Homo sapiens: one gene and its partner. The protein of the gene in region 2 purifies or fractionates together with the protein of the main gene of each other region. This does not show direct contact. Each region holds a gene or a part of one and is shown on either strand. Other genes may lie near its edges.

The links.
Region 1: the proteins of RCVRN (region 2) and HIKESHI purify together in Homo sapiens (affinity purification with mass spectrometry; 2 studies listed by BioGRID and IntAct, with this or other methods). This does not show direct contact.

The regions. Positions count from the first base shown.
Region 1 is NC_000011.10:86,298,191-86,305,255, reverse strand, and holds the start of HIKESHI (protein Hikeshi), read right to left. Parts: upstream 3,017-7,065; 5' UTR 2,808-3,016; coding exon 2,778-2,807; intron 1,900-2,777; exon of another isoform or gene 1,726-1,899; intron 1-1,725. UniProt on the Homo sapiens protein: Acts as a specific nuclear import carrier for HSP70 proteins following heat-shock stress: acts by mediating the nucleoporin-dependent translocation of ATP-bound HSP70 proteins into the nucleus.
Region 2 is NC_000017.11:9,902,266-9,909,580, reverse strand, and holds the start of RCVRN (recoverin), read left to right. Parts: upstream 1-4,309; 5' UTR 4,310-4,400; coding exon 4,401-4,781; intron 4,782-7,315. UniProt on the Homo sapiens protein: Acts as a calcium sensor and regulates phototransduction of cone and rod photoreceptor cells. Modulates light sensitivity of cone photoreceptor in dark and dim conditions.

The sequences.
Region 1 (7,065 bases), on a different chromosome or scaffold from region 2:
GGTCGAGGCAGTCAGCTGGCTTGAGCTCAGGAGTTCAAGACCAGCCAGGGCAACATGGCAAAATCCGATCTCTACAAAAACTACAAAAATTAGCCAGGGGTGGTGGCATGCGCCTTTGGTCCCAGCTACTCGGGAGGCTAAGACCAGATAATCACTTGAACCCAGGATGTCAAGGCTGCAGCAAGCCGAGGTCCCGCCACTGCACTACAGCCTGGATGACAGAGCATGACCCTGTCTCAAAAATAAATAAAAGAATCTCAGGTAATTAAAACAGGTAAGCAATCCAGAAGTAATTAGGCAATCCTCCTTATTCACAAATCCTGTATCTGAATTCACCTACTCACTAAAACTCACTTGTAATCCCAAATCAATGCTTGCTGCATTTCTGCAGTCATTCATGGACATACTCATATGAACAGTAGTAAAAAATGTGAGTTGTAGGCCTGGCACAGTGGCTCATGCCTGTAATCCCAGCACTTTGGGAGGCCAAGGCGGGTTGATCACCTGAGGTCAGGAGTTCCAGATCAGCCTGGCCAACATGGCGAAACGTAGTATCTACTAAAAATATAAAAATTAGCTGGGCATGGGGGCACATGCCTGTAGTCTCAGCTACTCAGGAGGCTGAGGCATGAGAATTGCTTGAACCTGGAGGCGGAGGTTGCGATGAGCAGAGATCACACCATTGCACTCCAGCCTGGCTGACAGAGTAAGACTCCGTCTCAAAAAAAAAAAAAAAAAAAAAAGTGAGTTGTGCAACTCACACACTGGCAGCTGAGGTAGAACATGCCATCTTGTTTCAGTCCTCGTAATATGAAAAAGTGTCCTTTTCACAGTCTCATCTATTTAAAGCATTTTTGTGATTTTTGTTGGTGATCGTGCTGTTTAAAATGACCAAGTTCAAGTGCTGGCTAGTCTTCCTAAGTGCAAGAAGGCTATGACATGCCTTACAGAGAAAATATGTGTGTTAGGTAAGTTTTCCCTCTATAATATCCTATCTACCGATACAAATAAACTTAGGAAAAATATACTGCTATGTAATTTCAACTATCTATTAGTTATAAAGTAGTATCAACTGGCTGCCCTAAATTAAGTCTCAAGATACAAAGGCAGTGTTCCTAAAGTCAAATTCTGATTCCCTCTTCAGAAGTATTCTGACCCACTTTAAAATCCTCCAGCTTTAGTATAAAGAATAAAACAAAGGAATAACACAAACCAAATGGCCTGTATTAGTATTAAATTCAATTTCACCAGTCTTTGGCATGCATATAACCTAAAAAGCATGGGAAATTATTATTTATGAGTCTTGAAATAACCACCAGGCAAAATAAATATTTCTTAAGTGTCAACTTTGTATAGGTACTGAACAGTCTGCAAATCTGTATCATCACACTCTAATTTTTGACATTAAGAAAAGGTGTATCTCTTTAAGAAAAAAAATCTTAAGAAATAAAAACTGGGTTCATAAGTTTAGATAAGTAGATTTTTCTTATAACAGAGTCGTGTAGTTAAGTTTTGAGATGCCACTAGGTCTATTTGTCCTTCACTTTGATGTGTCCTAATACTCCATAATTAAAGGACCAAGTATCCCCAATATATAGAGGCAGGTATTACCATAACTAAATTTCCTTCCAAATTAGTTGACAACGTGAGAGATACATGGATTCCAAATAGGCTTTTTATTCTTTAAGAAACACAATTTTAATGTCATTCATTAATAACACTCACTCGTCTGAGTCACACAATCATTCCAGGTTTGTCCTTTTTCCCTATTAAGAGCAGGGCAAAATTATCTCACCAGGATTATGAATTACCACCATCACCACAGGGGTCTCCCAGTCATTCAAGAGACAAACTTTATGAGGCTAGTCATCTCCAACTTATCTTTCTGGCTTCTTAGAACTGTATATGTACAGAATACAATACATTATCAAAACTTGATGGGAAAAAAAGACAATTCAGCAAAGGGACTGCAACATTTTAAAAAGCCAGGAGAAAAAAGAAGGAAAAATACTTCTAGGGGAAAGGAATCAGGCCTGAAAATTGATGTCTGTGTGGTTTCTAAGGAAACAAACAAGATTCACCTTCCAGATTATTCCTAAAGAATTCCAGGTGCTGTTCTCATTTACTCTAACAATTTGGCAAGGTAAGTTATCTATTTTGACCCATAAGGAAACACACTACTCGCATCCTTCTCTGGTTATCTCAGATACGGCTCACACGTTAAGTTTCAGCCAACTTCCAATTAAATTAAGCTTATTTTTACTCGGGTTCTTCCAAAGGGACCCAAAAGATATACATTCCCTGAGCACCTTAATCTTTGAAAAACAGTTTGCTATAGACCAAATTCAATCCCAAATTCACCTCTACCTCAAGTTAATAAAGAAGGTATTTATACTGGCGATTGAACTTAGTTCTGTAACTGCAAAATGTCAAAGATAAAGACCATCTCACGAGTTATGAGGATTAAGTTCAAAGTGCCAAATAAGCGCCACACATAAGGCTGAGTGACCAAAGGCGTGCATTGCACTTAGCCCAGTACTTGGTACAAAATGCACACTTAATAAATGCCAACTTATACTGTGACTACTATTCGAAAGAATCTGAATAGAGCTGGGCAAAGGAGAGCACCCAGCTTCCCACGCTCCATCCTCACATACCCACCCAAAATATAATAAGTGGGCTTCCCCGCATCCCTAGCGCCTGCGCACCCTCCCTGCCGTAGGGCTTCGCCCTCGGTATCCTGACCCCTTCCTGATATCACCCGGTCCCATCCTCACCAGCCTCCCCGCCACCAAGCAGCCAAACATGGCGACGGCAGCTCCGTTCAGCCGGCAGTGACCTGAAGCCGGCGACTAGGAGTCCTGGGGCTACTGCCCTAGTCGAGACTAAGAACCTTCCAGAATTTGCGGGAGGGTGTCTGCCCCTCCACTACATAGTGACTGGGCCAGCGGCAAGAATGCCTCTGCCCCCGCGAACTCTGACCTTCTCTTCCTAAGCAGCCCACTGCTCAGGCAACAAGTACTTCCGGGGCTTACACCCGGTTTTCCCCACTAAGGAAGAAAGGCGGGCCAGCGCCAGTACAAGACTACAAGTCCCAGAACAAGTCCCAGAGGGCACCGCGCCAGTTTCCGGGAAGGTAAGCCTGGAGGCTTTGCACACTGGGATCGGTAGTCCGGGTGTTTTATAGCCACAAAATCTGTGGATCCTTCATTTCCATGTACAATCCTGGGAAGAGATGCTTCTAACGTTTCTGTGACATCTGAGAGATTAACGGTGCACTTTTACAATAATCACGTCACTAGATCTTTACAAAAACCCTATGAGGTAAGTATTATAATCCAAATTTTATAGGAGTGATCAGCCTCAAATCTTTACACAGCAGTAAATGTTGGAGGCTGAATTCAAGTCCTAATCCAAATCCGGGTTTCTTTCTGCTACACAGTGTCTCAGAAGTATTAATCTTTAACCAATTGTTTTGTACTTGTCTACAATTTATAGTAGTTCTTTCCAGCTTCACTTAGTTCTCCCATTCATTTGCTGTACAATTGTGGACGAGTTGTAGATGTCTTTGTGCTTCAGTGCCCCTCCTTTGCAAAAGACAAATAATGAGCCTATTGCCTAGGGTTGCTGTGAGGATTAAATGAGCTAATATGTATAAAACACTTAAAACAGTGCTTGGCTGTGCTTAATTAGTGGGAGTTTTATTGTAAAAATGTCTATTTTTTTTCTATGTGGATCTGCAGAAAAGTTTCATAGGAAATACAAAACAATAGCCAAAAAAAAAAAAAAAAATACTGGCATTAAGTACCGATTGCCACCAATACTTATTCTCCCTTTCACAGCTCCAATTCCTTTTCTTCTTGAATAGGATAGTAAAGGGTCTCTGTCCAATTTGAAATATCTGAGCTTGGCCACCAGCCGTAAAGCAGGTCTGTCTTCCCAGTTCTCAGTTTATATATGGGGGATCAGTGTTTGGAACAGTCCTCTGGCCTCCACTGTGGATCCCTAAACTGATCACCTATCTTATCACCGATACTCCTTTGAGATAGCTGTGCCAAAGGTGAAGAGGTAGGAAAGGATCTACCAATGTTTCCAACTTACTATCTAAAAAGTCCTAGAACCTTCAGAATAAAAAGGCCATTCATATGAAGACCACTTCATAAATTAAGGCACCCACACTACCTGGGTTCAGAGCCCATCTCTGCCATTTATTAGTTACATAATCTCAGGCAAGTTAACCTAACACTCCCATACCTCCTTTTCCCCATCTTTAAAATGAAGTAATAGTAGTATCTACCTCATAAAGTTGTTTTGAGGGTTCTTACACGTAAAGTACTCAATAGTGGCCAGAATGTAGCTTACTCAATAAATGTTAATATTTAGCATTATTGCCTTTCCTAACTAATTTTCCATGTCTTCTTCATACCCACCTTGTGCACTAGCCATACTTTTGAATTCTCTGAGCAACTCCTACTTTTAAATTTGTATGTGCTTATGCAACTTGTTTTATCTCCCTGTAATATTCACTTGGTTATTTCTTACACATCCTCTCACTTTTCTTCACTAACCTTTCTATGACCCACCTGATAGTCATTTCTTCTCCTACCCAGCAATCTTATATTTAGTGGATTGAGAACTAGCTAGCTTAGAATTTTTTTTATAAATTACAGATGATGTTTATTAATTGTCTCAATCTCTGTTATGTGAGATATGAGCTTTTTCTCCATTTTGCTGGTCAACTGTCTTAGTTATAGATTGTACAAAGAGTTAGAGGCAGTGAGTACAGTATCATATCTCTAGAGTAGCCAGTATTCCAGCTACCAAACTATATTATTTGTACATACAGTAGTTCTTTGTAACTTCTGCGGGCAGAACTAGATACAGTGTGAGGAAGTGAAAAAATGTTTCAGGGAAAAAAATCTTTCCAATAATCAGAGCTCTCTGAAATAAGAATAGATAGTCATGGAATAGAGTGAATGCTCCTATTCACATTGATATTGTAACCAATGCTGAAATCCACTTACATTGTTGAGGAGACTTACGGAAAATTGGGGAAATTGGCTGAAAACCTCAGAGGTACTCCCCCCCATCTCAAACTATATGATTCTATGGAGTAAGAACCAGTTATAGTTTAATTGTGGCCAGGGTATCAGGGATTCTGAATCCTGGTGTTAGCTCTTCATTAATTAACCTAATGATGAGATCATTTATTTTATCATTTTGGCCATTATGTTTCTTCCAATTCTAGGTTGAATTCTGACTTGAAGAGAGCAAAAAAATATTTTTTCTCTTCTCTGAAAAATTTTTCTTTACAAAACAAGGAGAACAACAAATAGACACACAAACTCTGTCTTCCCTGAACTGGGAGATATCTGTAACCCCAAGTCACAACAGATATCAATGGAAAGTAGATAAAAGAAAGGCAAATGACTTAGCAGAGGCGTGGAAGATCAAACTCAGGTACTACAGAGAAAGATAAATATCAGAGAAGCTCAGGAACTGGAGATATCAGGGGCCACAGAATGCAAGGGTAAGACAGGTAGATTGCTTAAAATCAGTGTTAAGATGTTTATATCTGTTCCTCATCCACACCTTGCAAAAGGCCACTGGTATGAAATCTCTGTGGAAAAAAATTAAATCAGAGGCACCCTGGGTACTAGGAAACCATATACTGAAAAAAAGTGGTTGTAAATTAAGGCCACCATGTACAGATTCGGTCCTAAATAAGGACACCCAAATGAGAGAGGAGTCCTTGGTCACCAAGTCAAACATATCCCAGACTATGTCCACCCAAAGAGGGGTGGCTTTTTCTGAAGCATCCACGTGAGAGTGCTTTGTACTATATCATCCATGCAGAGATAGCTCTTTTTTACATCCCTCATCCATAGGGGAAAAGGGTCACGTTTTAAGAATTGATGGAAAAATCCAACACTCTTTTCATGATAAAAACAGTCAACAAACTAGGAATAGAAGAGAACTTCCTCAACCTGATGAAGAACATCTACAAAAACTCCGCAGCTAACCTCATACTTAATGGTGAAAGATCAGGAACAAGACAAAGGTGTCTTTTATAGCTGCTTGTACTCAACATTGCACTGGAAGTTCCAGCCAAGGCAATTAGGCAAGATAAATAAAACTGGAAATGAAAAAGTAAAACAATCTCTAGTCACAGATGACATGATCTTTTTATTTTTTATTTTTTTTGAGACTGAGACAGAGTCTCACTCTGTTGCCCAGTCTGGAGTGCAGTGGCGATCTCAGCTCACTGCAATCTCCACCTCCCAGGGTCAAGCGATTCTCCTGCCTTAGCCTCCCAAGTAGCTGGAACTACAGGCATGCACCACCATGCCTGGCTAATTTTTGTATTTTTTGGTAGAGATGGGGTTTCACCATGTTGGCAAGGCTGGTCTCGAACTCCTGACCTCAGGTGATCCACCCAACTCATCCTCCCAAAGTGCTAGGGTTACAGGTGTCAGCCAACACGCCTGGCCAACATGATCTTGTATATAGAAAATCCTAAGGGATCCACTAAAAACCTATTAGAACTAATAAACAATTTCAGCAAGATTGAAGGATACAAGGTCAATATACAAAAATAAATTGTGTTGCTATACACTTGCAGTGAACAATCCAAAAATGAAATTAAGAAGATAATTTCATTTAAAATTCTCATTTAACAAAAGAAGTATAAAGTATATACTCTGAAAACTACAAAAAATTGTTGTAAGAAATTGATCTGGCTTGGACATTTGTCTCCTCCAAATCTCATGCTGAAATGTGAACTTAATTGTTGGAGGTTGGCCTAGTGGGAGGTGTTTGGAGCATGGGGGCAGATCCCTCGTGAATGGCTTGGTGCTATCCTTGCAGTAATGAGTTCTCACTGTATTATTTCATTCAAGAGCTGATTGTTTAAAAAAATAAAAAATAAAGAGCCTGGCATCTCCCTTGCTCCCTCTCGCCATGTGATATGCCTGCTCCCCCTTCCGCTTCCGTCATGATTGTAAGCTTCCTGAGGCCCTTACCAGAAGCTGGACATATATTGCTGCCATGCTGGTACAGCCTGCA
Region 2 (7,315 bases):
TGAGGCCAGCCTGGCTGGAGTGGAGGGAGTGAGGAGGGAAGAGAAGATGAGGACGCTGGGCAACCCTCTTTCCTGGAGGGCTGTCACATTCTTTGAACGACCCGTCTCAGCGTTTCCCCCAGGTTCTTGGGATTGGTGGTGATTTTACCTCTGATGACTTAGCAGAGAGACAAAAGGCATCCGCCCCCTTTCATCCGTTCTTGGAGGTGCCAGAGGCCACTTGCGAGAAATGGTGGGATGAGGGCCAGTGCTGCCTGCTGCAGGCTTTTGGCTTGGACTGGGAGAAGTGGGCAGCCATAGTGCATGACCTGATTTCATGGCCATGGGGCTCACTGCGGGGCTGTAAGGGGACAAGAGCAGAAGCAGGAAGAGCTGTTAGGAGGCAGCGGTGATGCTGCCTGCACAAGGCAGGTGCAAGGGAGGCGGGAAGAACGGTCTGGTTCTGGATGTACCTTGAAGGTAGAGTCAAGATGATTTCTTGATAGATTGGAGTGGGTTGTGACCGAAAGAGAAACACTGAGAATGATGCCAAGGACCTCAATCCAAGTCATCAAAAGGATGGATTGTCATTTTCTGCAATGGGGACAGCTGTGGGAGGAGGGTCCTTCCCCATTCTCTGTCTCCCCCGCCACCTTCTCCATACCCCCTTTTCCCTCTCAATGCGGACTTCTCTGCAGGTGCTGGCTCCAGGCCAGAGGGCAGGAGGGTCGTCTTGGCCTTCAGCTCATAGCAGGCAAGGTCGAGCAATGGGGAAGGGGTGGCGTCTGGGTCCCAGCTAATGGCCAAGATGGAGCTCCTGCTTGAGGGGACAGGGCCAGCTTCTGGGAAGCATCTTTCAGTCCAGCGAGGAGAGCGAGACCAAAACTGGGATCCTCTGCCTGGAGATGAAGCCTTCTCCTCTAGAGCAGTCTTTGGGTTTTGGGAGAGTTTATGGCCCCAGCTCAGACTTAACAAATCGACTCACAATACATCATCTCCAACAACTTGTTTGGCTAAGGAGCATAAGCTCTCCCTCTGATAGAAGATGTTTATGCAGGTTTTCAAACAAACCTCCAGGTCATGACCCCTCACTCTCAGCATCAACACAGCTGCCTGCGGTCCCCTGGGGCCCCTCCTGGGCACAGCAACCTGGAGAATGTGGACTGTACCAGGCTGCTTCCGACCTGGGTCCAGCTCCTTCCTCCTTGTGCCTGGAGAGGACAGCAAAGACTGGAGGGCTCTGGCTGCCTTCTGCCTCGCCCAGGGCCTCTTTCATTGACATGGTAACCCCACCTCCTCACCTACTTGTCCTCTAGGCTCAGGCCTCCTGTGACGTAGACAAAGGAAGCCTAAATGGACAGGCTGGCAGACCTGGACTTTCCTTCCTTCTGGCATTGCCATTTAGCAACCATGTGACCCCAGGCTGGTGACATGCCTTTAGGAGGCCCCACTTCTCACTTGTAACACTGGCTTCGCCTCATCTGCTGCAGGCTTGATGTGGACAGGGGTGCGATCCAGGAGGCACTTCCAGTCGCCCCCTACTAGTGGCTCAGAGCAAGGGGCCGAGGCCTCTGACCTCACTCTCCCTCCATCCCCAGGGCTGCAAGGAAGCTCTGGAATGAATGCGATTCCAGGGTGTGGCTTGGGCTCCCGTTTGTTTTCAAGGCTAGTGACTGTCCTGTTTCTAACTGCTCTTGAGAATAAATGCACGCTACAGGATGGTGAAAGCCTAGGAGAGGAAGGACTCCTATTCAGAAGTAATATTCTCACTGGGCGCAGTGGCTCATGCCTGTAATCCCAGCACTTGGGGAGGCCAAAGCAGGCAGATCATGAGGTCAGGGGATCGAGACCGGCCTGACCAACAAGGTGAAATCCCATCTCTGCTAAAAACACAAAAATTAGCTGGGCATGGTGGTGAGCGCCTGTAATCCCAGCTACTTGGGAGGCTGAGGCAGGAAAATCGCTTGAACCTGGGAGGCAGAGGTTGCAGTGAGCCGAGATCGTGCCATTGCACTCCAGCCTGGGCGCAGAATGAGGCTCTGTCTTAAAAAAAAAAAAACAAAAAAAACAAACAAACAAAAAAAAAAAAACTCACAAAGTGATGGAAAAAAATTAGAAAGTTCACACACACACCCCAATATGCAGGTTTCCTGAGAAATCTCTGAAACTGTACTGGGCAGAGCGGCTGGGAGGGATGAGTCTGCCCCTTGGTGCCTGAACCTCTCGGTCCTTCCAGAGTGACATGAGGTGGGCCTGGCAGGTGGCTTTCTCCCAGCAGCAGGGACCTACCTTCTGCTGCCACTAGCCTGTTAGTAAGTAGGCTAAAATCCCCACTTTACACTTTGAGATGCAAGGCGGGCGGATCACCTGAGGTCAGGAGTTTACGAGACCAGCCTGACCAATATGGTGAAACCTCGACTCTACTAAAAATACCAAAAAAAAATTAGCTGGGCGTGGTGGCAGACACCTGTAGTCCCAGCTTCTCAGGGGACTGAGACAGGAGAATTGCTTGAAACCAGGAGGCGGAGGTTGCAGTGAGCCAAGATCGTGCCCAGCCTAAGTGACAGAGGGAGACTCCGTCTAAAAAAAAACCAGTTTACCTGCCTGGAGACCGTGGGGTTTATTCTTCATCATTCTCACCCCAGGGCAAAAAGAGACAACTCTCCATCCACGGTGGCAAGGCTGGGGTTCTGAGTGTGTCCCCTCGAGCACTGCGCTCCGCTAAGGAAAGTGCACGCCCACCCTCCCTTCCTTCTGGGTGACAAGAATCCAGGTGTGCAGCGTCCTCACTAGGTTGCTTCCTCGTGCTTGATACTCCCCGCTGAGCTGCACAGACGCGAAGCCTGCCTTTGCACAGCTCCGTCTCTGACCACTCAGTTATTTATCCATTCACTCAGCAAACACGTTTTCTTGCCTGCTCACTCCAAGTCCACTGCAGACGGACACCCTGCAGCCTGCCATGGACCCACAGATAGATTGTGTTTGGCCCACACCATGTTTTGTTTTGTTTTTGTTTTTGTTTTTGTTTTGTTTTTTTGAGATGGAGTCTCACACTTGTCACCCAGGCTGGAGTGCAATGGTGCAATCTCGGCTCACTGCAACCTCTGCCTCCCGGGTTCAAGCGATTCTCCAGCCTCAGCCTCCCAAGTAGCTGGGATTACAGTCACCTGCCACCATGCCCGGCTAATTTTTTGTATTTTTAGTAGAGACAGGGTTTCACCATGTTGGCCAGGCTGGTCTCGAACTCCTAACCTTGTAATCTCCCCACTCAGTCTCCCAAAGTGCTGGGATTACAGACGTGAGCCACCATTAAAATTTTGAATTAATTGCCAAAGTTGAAAAGTGTGGAAATTGCAAGAAAAATTCTGATTTTTGGATTTCTCTTGAATAATTTAAAAAAACCCAAAAATCTCACCATCCCATGTGACCACGTTCTCTGGCAGCCCCTTCCCGAGGTGACACAGGCCTGGCTGCCCCCTGCTGGTCCCTTCAGGCAGTTCACCTTCACTCCCTGTGACTGATGGACAATAACAAAACGAGTGTTTAGCATTAGCCATGTGCCAGTTTCTAAGTGTGTCAGACATATTGACTCACATCAGCCTCACAATGACAGTGTGGTAGATGCTATGATGCCCATTTATTCAAGAAAGACTTGCTGGGGGCCCAAGCCTATCAGGTTCTGGCAATGGAAATGCATCCGGGAACAACACAGACAAAATCCCATCCTTCACGGAGCTTTCATTCCGGTGAGGGGACATGCAGCGTGCCGATGATGGTGGGGGTTGTGCTATTATAGATAGAGGGTCAGTATAGGCCTGGCTGAGCAGGTGACATTTAAGCAGAGACATGACTGCAGTGAAGGTTTAGAAGAGTGTCCCAGGTGGAAAGAGGTGAAGAAACAAGCCTGGGGCCACACAGCTAGTTAAGTAGCCAAGCTGGGACTTGAACCCATGCTGGCCCCAGAGTCTGTGCTCCTAACCATTGCATTCTAGGGCTTGATATGAGATGCCAGCCCCGCCCCGAGATGCTCAGAGTTAGTGAGGAAGAGAAACAGGGAACATGGCTGCTGTTAGAGGGCTGGGGCTGGGGGTGCCGGAGGCCCCAGCTCTGAGGGTTCCAACCTCCTGTCCTGTTCTAGTATCGTCCCGGGAGGCCGAGATGAATTGCCTGCCTGCCCTGGGCTCTTTATTTTAATCTCACTAGGGTTCTGGGAGCACCCCCCCCCACCGCTCCCGCCCTCCACAAAGCTCCTGGGCCCCTCCTCCCTTCAAGGATTGCGAAGAACTGGTCGCAAATCCTCCTAAGCCACCAGCATCTCGGTCTTCAGCTCACACCAGCCTTGAGCCCAGCCTGCGGCCAGGGGACCACGCACGTCCCACCCACCCAGCGACTCCCCAGCCGCTGCCCACTCTTCCTCACTCATGGGGAACAGCAAAAGTGGGGCCCTGTCCAAGGAGATCCTGGAGGAGCTGCAGCTGAACACCAAGTTCTCGGAGGAGGAGCTGTGCTCCTGGTACCAGTCCTTCCTGAAGGACTGTCCCACCGGCCGCATCACCCAGCAGCAGTTCCAGAGCATCTACGCCAAGTTCTTCCCCGACACCGACCCCAAGGCCTACGCCCAGCATGTGTTCCGCAGCTTCGATTCCAACCTCGACGGCACCCTGGACTTCAAGGAGTACGTCATCGCCCTGCACATGACCACCGCGGGCAAGACCAACCAGAAGCTGGAGTGGGCCTTCTCCCTCTACGACGTGGACGGTAACGGGACCATCAGCAAGAATGAAGTGCTGGAGATCGTCATGGTCAGTCTCCCCTCTCCCCTTCTGGCTGGGCGGTGCCGGGGTCGCTCCGGGCTGGGGGTCCCCTGCTGCAGCTGCTGCAGAGGGAGTGGATCTGTGGGTGGAGCGGGGGATGCGGGCCACTGGCTCTGAGAGCGTGGTGCTCCGAGATGCTGATATTGATAGAGGGGTGGGCACTTGCCCACAGCTTCGTTGTCTTCCCGGAGCAGAATCTGAGTGTTTCCTAATACAGCCATGTTATGCTTGGCTTCACGATGTTTGGGTCAACAACGGACGATATAGACCACTGTGGTCCCATAAGATTGTAATGGAGCTGAAAAATTCCTACTGCCTAGTGACGTCATAGCACAGTTACTTTATTTTTCAAATGCATTTAGTGTAGCCTAAGTGTATCCGTAAAGTCTGTAGTTGTGTACGGTAATGTCCTAGTTCTTCACATTCACTCACTACTCACTCACTGACTCACCCAGAGCAACTCCCAGTCCTGCAAGCTCCACTCATGGTGAGTGCCCTAGACAGGTCTACCATTTTGTATCTTGGTTTTTTATTTTTTATTTTTTTGAGATGGAGTCTCACTCTGTAGCCCAGAGCTGGAGTGCAATAGTGCGATCTTGGCTCACTGCAACCTCTGCCTCCCGAGTTCAAGCAATTCTCCTGTCTCAGCCTCCCGAGTAGCTGGGATTACAGGTGTGCACCACTATGCCTAGCTAATTTTTGTATTTTTAGTAGAGACGGGGTTTCACCATGTTGGTCAGGCTGGTCTCAAACTCCCGACCTCCAGCGATCCGCCAGCCTCAGCCTCCCAAAGTGCTGGGATTTACAGGCATGAGCCACTGTGCCCGGCCCATTTTTTATCTTTATACTGTATTTTTACTGCATGATTTCTATGTTTAGCTATGTTTAGATGCACAAATACTTACCATCGTGTGACAACTGCCTGCAACATTCAGGACAGTCACGTGCTGCACAGGTTTGTAGCCTAGGAGCAAAAGGCTGGACCATGGAGCTCAGGGATGTAGTCGGCTCTACCATCTGTGTTCGTGCAAGGATGCTCTATGATGTTCCCACATAGAAGTTGCCTTAAGATGTGTTTCTCGGAATGTATTCCTGTCTCTGAGCGACACGTGACTATATTTACATTTTTTCTTTCTCTCCATCCTTTGTTTCTTCCTTCCTTTATTAAAATGTCCTTTGAAATTTTCAGCAGTACACATTCAAGTTGAATCACTGTTCATTCTAAACACACAATATGCTTCTAATATAAAGTAGAAAGAGGTCAAAGTTGGGGGCATGAACTCTGAGTTCTAGTCCTCATGTTCTCCCCAGCGCGGGGCGGATCATGGCACCACGCATGAGCCCCCGCTTCCCACGCGCGGCGTGGCTCCCCGGCTCCTGACAGTTTCCCTGTGAGGCGCACAGGCTTCCATATGGTTCCCAACACGCCTTCTCCCCTGTCCATACTGTCCTCCTGTCAGATCCTTTGTTGTGAAAGTAATGGCAAAAACCATAATTACTTTTCCACTAACCTCGTAGGTGTCTTGAAAATGGTTTATCTGATATAAAAGTAACTCATGAAATTTAGAAACCTAGGCAAAAGAGACTAACAATTGCCTCTAATTCCAACATCCAGGGAAAACTTTTCTTAGTATATCAGTATATACCTTTTCAGTCTTTTACCTATATAATTTTAAATAATGTTAAAGCTATGACATATTCACATACGATTTTTTATCATACATTTTTCAGTTACTCTTTTATCATGAGTGCTTTCCATATCATTACATATTCTTCCAAAACACTTTTTTTTTTTCTTCAGACAGAGTTTTGCTCTTGTCGCCCAGGCTGGAGTGCAGTGGCGTGATCTCAGCTCACTGCAACCTCCCCCTCCTGGGTTTGAGCAATTCTCCTGCCTCAGCCTCACGAGTAGCTGGGATTACAGGCACCTGCCCAGCTAATTTTTGTATTTTAGTAGAGACGGGGTTTCACCATGTTGGCCAGGCTGGTCTCGAACTCCTGACCTCAGGTGATCTGCCCGCCTCGGCCTCCCAAAGTGCTGGGATTACAGGCGTGAGCTTCCGCACCCAACCTCTTCCAAAACTCTTTTAATAGCTGCTTGGAATTCTGGCTTATGGAAATGTGGAAATTATTGAACATTCCTATGTTTTTGGACATTAGGTTGTTTCCATTTCTTTCCTATTATACCAGTTCTAATTTCCTTCATTTGATTTTTTTTTAATTTATTCTTTTTCAGTCCCCCTGCCCCTGCCACTTACCTTATTCTTCTAATTCCATTCCTGTTAGTAGAGACTATTGTTTAGATGTTAATAACTTTGTGTGCATTGGCAATCATGCTTTCATTTGCATGATGACAAATGCACAAAAATCTTCCACAGTTATTAGGAGAAATCATAAATAAAACAGCAGAGCATGCAGCTTGTGGTCCATGGGCTTATCCTCAATGCTCAGCTCGGGCCTCCCATTCTGGCAGGCATGTGTCTCTCTCATTGTTATCTTGGCACAGCCTGCAGAGAAAGCTC